2 separate regions of the Homo sapiens genome follow, and region 2 is linked to region 1. The links come from fine-mapping of genetic effects on plasma protein levels. A gene starts in region 1. The other region holds a variant in brackets. All regions are shown on one strand. Distances are between the middles of the regions.

Region 1 (5,365 bases):
AAGAAAAAGAAAAGTTAACGTGTTTTTGTTTTTGTTTTTGTTTTTTGACGAAGTCTCACTCTGTCGCCCAGGCTGGAGTGCAGTGGCACGATCTCAGCTCACTGTGACCTCCCAGGCTGGAGTGCAGTGGCGTGATATGAGCTCACTGCAACCTCCCCTTCCCAGTTTCAAGAGATTCTCCTGCCTCAGCTTCCCAAGTAGCTGGGACTACAGGCAGGCGCCACCACGCCCAGCTAATTTTTTATTTTTAGGAGAGACGGGGTTTCACCATGTTGGTCAGGCTGGTCTTGAACTCCTGACCTCAGGTGATCCCCCTGCCTCGACCTCTCAAAGTACTGGGATTACAGGAGTGAGCCACCGCGCCCATCCAAGTTAACATTTTTAATATGTGTCCCCTGCCCCGGGACCTGAAAGCTCCCAAAGAGAAAGCCCCTTTTGTGTTGTTCTTTTCCCTTTTCTCATCCGTGTACAACAAGCAGAGCCAGGCACACTGAGGCTGTGAGAGTGATGGGAAACATGTGTTGAATGAGTAAATGACTCCACTGAGCAATACATCCTCCCCCAGAAAAATGCACATTTGGACACACACATTTTGAAAGCAACTTTAGGGCTGGGTGCAGTGGCTCACACCTGAAATCCCAGCACTTTGGGAGGCCAAGGTGGGAGGACTGCTTGAGCCCAGGAATTCAAGACCAGCTTGGGCAACACAGCGAGACCCCATCTCTACAAAAAACATATATAAATATAAAGGTTTTAAAAATTAGCCAGGCGTGGTGGTGGACACCTGTGGATCCAGCTACTCGGGAAGCTGAGGTGGGAGGATTGCTTGAGCCCCAAAAGTCAAGGCTGCAGTGAGCTATGATTGTGCCAATGCACTCCAGCCTGGGCAACTGAGTCTCAAAGAAGAAAGAAGAAAGAAAGCAAGAAAGCAAGAAAGGAAAGAGAGAGGAAGGAAAGAAGGAAGGCAGGCAGGCAGGCACAACTTTAGGAGGAATCACACCTCTATTTACGCCTAGTGGTCCATTATTGGAACGTGACGCCTGTGGGAGTTATCTCCTACTGCTCAAGGTCACTGCCAAGGTATGATTTATCAATTCAAAAAATTGCAACCTCAGGCATAAATGGGTTAAGCCCACCCATAGAAGCCCCATTAAGAATAAGGTTGGCTGGGCACGGTGGCTAATATCTGTAATCCCAGCACTTTGGGAGGCTGTAGGCCGGCAGATCACTTGAGCACAGGAGTTCAAGACCAGCCTGGGCAACATGGTGAAACTCTGCCTCTACAAAAATTTTTAAAAATTAGCCAGGTGTGGTGGTGTGTGCCATCCGGGCTTCAGGTCAGATTAGGTTTCTGTCTAAGGGCAGCCTCCTCCACTGGCACACAGTCTGGGCCAGGACATGCTGGCAGAATTGTGCAACGTCGTTGTTCTGAGCCGCAATCGAGCAGCTTTTATGACCAGCTATGAAGCGCTCTTCTAGTGCCAGGGCCTGGAGTTATTGAAGTTTCAAAGGAGTTTTTGTCCACCCGAGATGGCAAGCGGAGAGCAGATTCAGGCCAGGGCACTGCGCTCAGCGCTTTGCGTGCATTACCTGCAGGGACATCCCCACAGGCCTTTCGGATGGGGTGGTGGTTATCACCGTTTGACAAAGAAGTAAACTGTGGCTGGGAGCAGTAAAACACCTTGCCCAGGAGTGTCAGCCAACCTGGGGGTGGCAGGGCTTGAACTCAGGCCGGCGCCCTCGGCAGTTCAGCCCCCTTCCCTCAATTGCCACCATCTGAGTGCAATTCGCTAGCTACTAGGGCACATGAATCCGTGCGGGTCTCTGCCGCACCTGTCTTGCGGGGCCCAGCTGGGTGTCCGCCAAAGCACCAGGAGCGCCGAGTTCCGCGGTAGCGCAGAACCAGGTGAAGGCCTCGGCCAGAGGCGCGCCGGGCCCGAGGAGGGTGGGGCTGCGAGCGCTCGCCCCGGCGGCCTTTGCGCCCCAGTGCCTGCCCGGCCTCCGGAGTCCCCCGGCTGGGGGTGGGCGGCGTCCGGCCAAGACCCAGTGTCCCCACCCCCGCGTCCAAGCCCCGCCCGCGCGGTGGCCCCTCCTCGGGAAGGTAAGCACCACCTTCTCGGGGAGCGGCCCGCAGAGCCAGTGGCCGGCGGGCGCCCCGCCCCCAGCGAGTAGGGACCCGGAGCCACTGCCGCGCCGCAGTCCGGGCTCCCCGCGCCGCCGCTCGCTCACCTGCGCTCCCGCCCGCCCCTCGGTGCGCGCCCGGCCCGCCAGCCGCCGCCGCCCGCACCCCGAGCGCCACCATGAACTCGCTCTTCAGGAAGAGAAACAAAGGCAAATACAGCCCCACTGTGCAGACCCGGAGGTGAGGAGGCGCCCACAGCTCCGCTCCGGGACGCTCTTGCCCCTGTGGGCGCACAGGACCTGGAAGACCTCCCGGGCAGTGTAGGAATGGGGGGTACGGGGGTCCAGGAACCGGGAACTGAACCCGGAGTGCGGGACTCTCGGGAACGCGGGACCGAGGCCACCCTGAAGCTGGGAAGCGCCGCCAGGTGGGAAGGGACTGGCTGGGGTCCCCGAGGGGGAGCATAACACAGGGGACTCCGGGAGCCCAGGGAGCATTGCCTTGAGGGCCTAGGGCACGGGCAGCTGAGCTGGGGGTACAGGGCACCCCCGTGTCCCAGGGTCGCTCTTGCGCAGAGGGTCGCACAGGACCGGGAATAGTCACCTGGATGAGGGGGCGGAGTTTTTGGAGGACCGGGCACTCAAGGCGGGGTCGCTGCGGGCGACCCAGGAAGCTCCGTCCAGGGGGCGCCCTGAGGCAGGGAAACTGAGCTGGCGTCGGGGGGCGCTCTCCAGCGCCTCTGAGACCGCGCAAGTGTTCCTGGCGTCGGGGAGGCGAGGGATGGGTGTCCGGAGGGGGCGGGCCACCCGCCGCTGCACTTCCCGGCACCTGCCACCCTGCGCGCCAGAGCCGCGCCCGGAGGCCCTGGGGGGTGTGGGGTCGGGTCGAGGGGCACAGGGGGAGGCACCCCCTTACCTCCCCACCCTCTGGGTTCTGAGCGGAGGTTGGGCGGCTTCGGGGCCTCCTCTTCGAAGCTCGGTTTCGCAGGGGTGTGGCTCCCTGCCCCCACCCCAGCCCCGAAACTGGCGGCGTCTCTGAGCCGCGGGTTCCCAGGGCGGCCTGGGAGGGGAATGGCATGTCTTGATGTGTTTGCAGGGAGAAGCAGCCCACGTCCCTTTTGATAAGCCTAATGTGTTCACTTAATAACCGGTTTAGGGGAGCCTGGTGGAGATGCTGAGATTGACGGAGGGGGTGGGAATCCAGCCCCTGCCTTATATCCCCACTTCGGAAAATAGAGTGGGGGCTCTGGGCTAGCAAGGACCATTTTGCCAGCTTCTCGGACAAGAGGCTTCAGGCAGGTGAGGGGCCCGCACATTACATGGCTCTCCTGTCTGGGAGTTCTGCCCCCAAGCTGCTCTCACTGGGAGCCCCCACTGTGCCCTCAAGCAGCTCCTCACTTCTTCCCTAGGCAAGGAGAGGCCTCTGGGCCCAGGGCTCCCACTCAACCCCTGCAGTCCGGCCTAGGCCGACCAGTCGGACAGGTGCAGGCGGCGGGGCCCTAGCACGCTGGAGTGCGACACTCCATTCCGGGGCCTTCCAGCCCTTTCAGAAACCCCCCTGCCCTGTGATCCCACCCACCCGTATCTCCGTTTGGGCTCTTTCAAGCTCAGAGGCATTACCCGCCTTTAGAGATTTCCCCACCCCTCCCCTATCTTTCACAACCCCAGAGACTGGGCAGGGCCTGCACACCCCTCCTCCATGGCTGCGTCCAGCTGGCACTCAGACCCAACCAGAGGCCCGTCCAGTCCCTGCACTGTTCCCTGGGGCATTGCACAATTGGATGCTCCGTGCCAGCCGTGGAGAACCGTTCTGTCCTCTCCACCCCAGAGACTAGACCCATCCAGTCCTTCACACATGCAGACACCCACATACCAGTGGTGGGGCCAGGCCTCGCCCCGCCCTCTGCCTCCTCCCAGCCTCCCTCCTTCGTGCAGCTCTCCATCCTGAAGGCCCCAGCTTGGACCTAACAAAAGGTTCTAATGAACCCAGACAAGCTGGGAGGGGTGCGGGCTTTCCCAGAAGCATGAGGATGAAAGGCATCCCATCCTTTATAGCTGCAGGGACTGGGAGGGTCTGGGGTGGCAAAGATTTGGGGTCCTGCCACTCTCTGTATATCTGGCCCAAGGCAGCCACGGTCTGTCCTAGGCTGATAGCCATTGGTCCCAGATCTCCATTTAGACGTCTCTTTCTCCAGGAAGCCCTCCTGATTCTCTCCCCAGCCTGGGGTGCAAGACCATTCCTTTGAGCCTTGCCACCCCAGCACAGAATGAGCACAGCCACAGCCCTGAGCAGATGTCAGATGCCTCCCCGGGTGGTCTCCAAGCCCAGTGCATCCCTCTGCCCCCTCCCCTTAGTGGGGACTAGTTCGCAGACTGGATTGTGGGGTGGGGGTAGCCCTGTACCCCATCCTCTCAAACGCATCTCTTGAACATTGCCTGATGCCCAGCCAGCCCCATAGCAAGTGTCTTGGTGGGGGGGTGGAGGGGACAGACTTGCGGCTCTAGGCTGTGGTCGCTGGTCACAGGGAGTGGATCCCCAAGTTATTCCTTCACTCTGAGTTTTCCAGGGGCCCGCTCCATTGTCTGGGGGAGGACAAAATTGCTGGTGAGATTCAGCATGGGGGGCAGTAGGAGCTCCAGCACTGAGAGCAGAATGCCTCACTGTTGATCCTGGCATCTCCACCCTGGAGCCTCTCGAAGCCTTGTTTTCCCTTTCTGCACAGCACGGGTGGTAATACTGAGTGTCTCATGCATAGGGCTGCTGGGAGGAGCAGTGCTGTAGCACACAGGAGGTGCCCGGATGAGGGTAGCAGCCCTTTCCGAGCCCAGGGGACCCAGGAGCCCCAAGTGGTGACTTTCATACCCAAGGTAGTCAGGCCTTTGGACTACAAAGTGTGGATTAGTGAACGGAACACCCCACCGAGAAAGCCACCCCTTCCAGTTTGTCTGCCTTTTAGCAGCTGAAGCTGGGGAGGGCCGGGACAGGGTGTGAACCCCGTTGCTCCCGTTGCCCGGGTTCCTAATGACAGGTGTGGGAGTTGATGTTCACACCTGAGCTAATGACAGAGTCAGGCCAGATGGTGCAGGTGACCGAGGACAGCCTCCAGCCTAGTAGAGAGGCCCTGGAGGAGACCCGCTGCCACCCTCCTGGCTGTGCGACCTCAGAGGAGCTGCTTGGCTTCTCTGAGCCTGTTTTCTCACCTGTGGGATGGGAATAAGCACGGTGCCTGCCTGGCGATGTTGG
Region 2 (5,365 bases), 13 kb before region 1:
TCCACAGGGACAGAAAGAAGAACGGTGGCGGGGCTAGGGGCTGGGGGGAGGGGCATGGGGAGTTAATTAATGGACACAGAGTTTGGGTTTTAGAAGATGAAAAGAGTTCTGGGCCGGGCACAGTGGCTCGCGCCTGTAATCCCAGCACTTTGGGAGCCCGAGGCGGGCGGATCACGAGGTCAGGAGTTTGAGACCAGGCTGGCCAACATAGTGAAACCCCATTTCTACTAAAAATACAAAAATTAGCCGGCCATGGTGGCACGCACCTGTAATCCCAGATACTCGGGAGGCTGAGGCAGGAGAATCGCTTGAACCCAGGAGGCGGAGGTTATGGTGAGCCAAGATTGCACCACTGCACTCCAGCCTGGGCAACAGAGCGAGACTCTCAAAAAAAAAAAAAAAAAAAAAGGAGTTTTGGAGATGGATGGTGTGATGGTTACACAATAATGTGAATGCCACTGAACTGCACACTGAAAAATGATTAATTAAGATGGGCAATGTTTTATATATATCTTACTGCAATAAAAAAAATAACAGGAGCTGGTCTGAGTGCAGTGGTGTTTACAACTAATTGTCTCAACCCGTTGCAGATGTGTTTGTTTTGTTTTGTTTTGTTTTGTTTTCTCCACTCCCACTGCTTCACCTGATTAGCCTTGTTTTAAAAAATCACATTGAGGCCAGGCACAGTGGCTCACTCCTATAATCTCAGCACTTTGGTAGGCCAAGGTGGGCAGATCATCTGAGGTCAGGAGTTCGAGACCAGCCTGGACAACATGGTGAGACCCTGTCTCTACAAAAAAATACAAAAATTAACCAGGCGTGGTGGCAGGCCCCTATAATCCCAGCTACTCGGATGGCTGAGGTATGAGAATCGCTTGAACCTGGAGGCAGAGGTCGCAATGAGCCGAGATTGTGCCACTGCACTTCAGCTTGGGTGACAGAGTGAAACCCCGTCTCAAAAAAAAAAAAAAATCACATTGGAAACTTTTTTTTTAATGGGGTTAACCATAGTGTTATCCTGAAGGTTGGTGGAAATTGCGTGAGGAAAAGTAATTGCACAGGGACCACCAGAGGACCCGGGTACATGTTTGTAACTGTGCGGGCTTAGAAGGAGGGGCATTTCCCACGGGAATTTAGGGTGAAGGGGAGTGAGGACTTGACGTTGGACATTTGAGGGGGTGGCCAACACAGTATAGGAAGGTGATAACTCTGCCTTTTGGAGATACAGAATTCATTTATTTAAAGTATGCAATTCAGCTGGGTCTGATGGCTCACCTCTATCATCCCCGAACTTTGGGAGGCCGAGCCAGGAGGATTGCTTGAGGCCAGAAGTTCCAGGCTGCAGTGAGCAATGATCACACCACTGCACTCCAGCCTCAGCAGTACAGCAATACCCTTGGCTGGGCACAGGGGATCACACCTGTAATCTCAGCCCTTTGAGAGGCCAAGGAGAGAGGACCAGTTTAGCCCAGGAGTTCAAAACCAGCATGGGCAAAATAGTAAGGCTCCAGTCTCTACAAAAAATTTTAAGGCCGGGTGAGGTGGTTCACGCCTATAATCCCAGCACTTTGGAAGGCCGAGGCAGGCAGATCACAAGGTCAGGAGTTCAAGACCAGCCTGACCAACATAGTGAAACCCCATCTGTACTAAAAATACAAAAAAAATTAGCCGGGCATGGTGGCAGGCACCTGTACTCCCAGCTACTTGGGAGGCTAAGGCAGGAAAATTGCTTGAACCCGGGAGGCAGAGGTTGCAGTGAGCCGAGATCGTGCCACTGCACTCCAGCCTAGGCAACACAGCAAGACTCTGTCTCAAAAAAAAAAAAGTAAAAATAAAAAACAGGGGCCGGGCGTGGTGGCTCATGCCTGTAATCCCAACAGTTTGGGAGGCCGAAGTGGGCAGATCACCTGAGGTCGGGAGTTCAAGACCAGCCTGACCAACATGGAGAAACCCTGTCTCTACTAAAAATACAAAATTAGCCGGGCGTGGTGATGCATGCCTGTAATCCCAGCTACTCAGGAAGGCTGAGGCAGGAGAATCACTTGAACCTGGGAGGCGGAGGTTGCGGTAAGCTGAGATCGCGCCACTGCACTCCAACCTGGGCAACAAGAGCAAAGCTCCATCTCAAAAAAAAAAAAAAAAAAAAAAAAAAAAGGAGAGAGAGAGAGAAAGACCCTGTCAAAAAAAAAAATAAAAAAAAAAAGAGTGCCATCCAGCC[G/A]GTTTTGGTAGTTTCAGAGTTGCACAACCATCAGCATGGTCAATTTGAGAGCACTATCATCACCTGTGCCCCTTAGCAGTCACTCGCCACTCCCCTCTCCCCAGCAGCCACAGTCTCCTTTCCATCTCTACGAATTCACCTCTGAACATTTCACAGGCAGGATCGTATAATATGTGCCGTTGTGTATCTGGCTTTTCTTACTGAGCCTAATGTGCTCACGGTCAACCATGCTGAAGCGCATGTCAGGCCTTCACTCCCCTTTTTTTTTTTTTTTTTTTTTTGAGACACAGTCCCACTCTGTCACCCAGGCTGGAGTGCAGAATCGCGATCTCAGCTCACTGCAACCTCCGCCTCCCGGGTTCAAGCGATTCTCCTGCCTCAGCCTCCTGAGTAGCTGGGATTACAGGCGCCCACCACCACACCTGGCTTATTTTTTTGTATCCGTGAGTGGCTTCTGTTGTGGGTTAGATTGCACTGAGTGCCATGATTGGTGAGCAGGGAAAGAGGGTGGGAAGTGCAGGGCAGATTACAATGTAGGGACCAGGTGGGCTGCGCTGAGAAGGTGACTTGGCACAAAGGCTTGGAAGAAGAGCAGGGGGTCCACGTAGAGAGTGGGGCCAAGGGGGCAGCCGATGCAAAGGCCCTGAGGCAGGAGCATACTTGGCGTGTTTGAGTATTGGGGAGGCGGTCAGTGTATCGGGGGTAGAGTTAGTGGGAGGGAAGTGGCGGGGAAGAGAGCAGACTCTGAGGGGAGCCTGAGGGAGGGGGTCTCATGGGTTATCTGGCTCTGATGCTGAGGTACTCAGAGTGTCTGGGAGGTATGGGACAGGGGAGTCTGCTGACTTCACTTTAGCCCTCTGGTTGCTGTGTTGGGAATAGATTGTAGTTGACCACGGTGGAGGAGGGGGAAGGGTGCAGAGAGCACGGAGGAGGAGCCAGGAGGAGGGAGGCCACCAAAGTGACCTCAGGAATCTGGAGGTGAGGGGGTGAGACCCTAGATCTCTTGCCCAGGTAGATGCTGTAGGAATGGAAAGGGAGACCCAGGAGAACCAGGAAGGGGAAGCTGTTCCTAGAGAGCGCATCCGTGGAGCGGATGCAGACAGAGGAACCTGGGGAAAACGACCTCTTGTCATTGGAGCCGGACAGTCCCACCTGAAGGTCAGCTCAGGTCTTCAGGAGCTCTCAGTGTGTGATTCTGACCACCAAGCAGGGGTCAGAACAAGGGACTGGCCGCTGGGGAGGGGCCACAGGCACCAACACCCAAAGCTCAGCCCCATCAACACAGCGACTCCAGGGACCCCCCAGCTCAGTGCCTGAGGCCTCAGCTGCCACCCAGCCCCTCTAGGCTGCCCCTGCCAAGAAGAGGACCAGGGACCCGAGCTGTCCTCTTCTCCATGCCTGGGCCCAGGTGGACCCTGCGACAGCCACCAGATGCACGCTGCTACTTACGTTTGCATTAATTAAATTCTGTAAATATGAATATGCTCTATATTTACATAAATAACAATACACATAAACAATAAAATTAACAATTCAGGCTGGGCGTGGCGGCAGGCGACTGTCATCCCAGCACTGTGGGAGGCTTAGTCCGGAGGATGGCTTGAGCTCGGGAGTTCAAGGCACCCTGGGCAACACAGTGAGAATCTCCCATCTCTACAAAAAATAAATTAATGGATTAAAATGAATTTTTAAAAATTAACAATTCAATTCCTCAGTTGCACTAGTCACATTTCACGTGCTCAGTAGCCACATGTGGCTTGCCGCCTCCATGTATACAGAATATTTCCATTGTCACAGGCAGTTTTATTGGACAAGGCTACACTGAGGTCTCCCCACCCCCAACCAGTGGAGGGGGGCCTTTTGGCTGGGGACAGGGGACAGGATGGTCTGGGTAGCGGGAGGTCAGGGACTCCAGGGCTGAAAGGAGGAGTATTTGCCCAGAGCGGAGTCCTGGGCGTGTGTGGGGATTAAGCCTGAGCTTGTGATTAGAGAATGGCCTGGGAGGCGGCTGATGGGGGCTTGGCTGCCTGGGCCCAGCAGGAATGTTTGAGCTCAGCAGAGAGCGTGAACAAAGAGTGGAGGCAGAGCCAGGCAGGCAGGCAGGTGGAGGACGAGCTCACGGAGACACAGGGCAGCTCCGTTCTGAAGCGGAAATGGCAAAACACGACACCTAATAGCAGGCAGCTTCCTTTTTTCACTTGCTACACCCTCAGCTTCCCTGTGAGGCCCACAGGCCTCCCCGAATTCCTCCCAGACTAGGGCAGTTTTGTAATTTACCACCGCTTCCCCCACTGATGGGCACTTAGGTTATTTCATTTGTAAAAAATGTGGTTATCTGTTTGCTTTTCTGTCCCTCCTCCCTTCCAAGACAGGGGGCCCCCAGGATGTGAGGGATGTATCGTGTTTGCTACTATATCCCCAGAGCCGGGTACACAGTAGGTGCTCAATAAATGGATGAGTGACTTGTGGGAGGTATTGTGGGGGCAAGAGGTCGAGATCCTCCACGGGGGTTGGGGAGGAGCCTGGCTCCTGGGAAATGTCAGTGATGCAGAAAACACGATGAGGGAACCTGACGCCCTGCAAGCTAAGGCCTCCCCTTCCTCACCGGGTCCTCAACCACCCTCAGACTGGAGTCTGGCCACTTTCCTCATAGTGTCCCTGGGCCCCCACCTGACGGTGACTCTGTGCCGACTGCAGACTTTGTCTCCTGGGGCACACAGAAGAGGCGCCATGATCCACCCAAGGGGACCTCAAACTTACATTGTTTGTCCATTCCCACTCCTGTCTCCCACAGCAAGCTCCCTGGGAGCAGGAACCTGAGTCTATTGTACTTGATCTTGAATCCTGAGTGCCTAGAACAGGACTTGTCACGTAGCAGGTGCTTAGTAAATATTTGACAAATGAAGGGATGGATGGATGGATGGATAGATGGATGGATGGATGGATGGAGGAAGGGAGGGAGAGAGGGAAGAATGGAGGGATGAAGATATGGATGGATGGATGCAGGAATGGAGGGATGAAGAGATGGATGGAGGAATGGAGGGATGAAGAGATGGATGGATGGATGGATGGATGGATGGAGGAATGGAGGGATGAAGGGATGAAGAGATGGATGAATGGATGGATGGAGGAAGGAAGGGAGGGAGG

Which allele goes with the higher level. Alleles are on the strand shown, and positions count from the first base shown. The strength of an association depends on the size of the effect and on how common the allele is.
As copies of G replace A in region 2, the plasma level of the protein whose gene starts at base 2,198 in region 1 goes down (moderate association).

What was found. A credible set is the group of variants that fine-mapping cannot tell apart. PIP is the chance, under the fine-mapping model, that this variant and not a neighbour inherited with it causes the effect. Protein levels are from antibody-based Olink assays in UK Biobank. Linkage for the fine-mapping came from a reference panel and not from the study's own genotypes, which makes the PIPs less certain.
Region 2: its variant is the best candidate, but not a certain one, in a credible set for the plasma level of the PPL protein (UK Biobank, PIP 0.72).

Annotation. Positions count from the first base shown.
Region 1 is chr16:4,933,981-4,939,345 of GRCh38, reverse strand. It overlaps PPL (periplakin), which reads left to right and starts at 2,198. Exons shown (of 22, transcript NM_002705.5): 1 at 2,198-2,362. The coding sequence starts at 2,301. RefSeq lists a silencer at 1,856-2,255.
Region 2 is chr16:4,947,065-4,952,429 of GRCh38, reverse strand. No RefSeq gene overlaps it. Among named protein-coding and RNA genes, the nearest start is that of SEC14L5, 8.6 kb to the left of the region's middle. RefSeq lists an enhancer at 3,861-4,618. The variant G/A (reference allele first, on the strand shown) is at 2,219.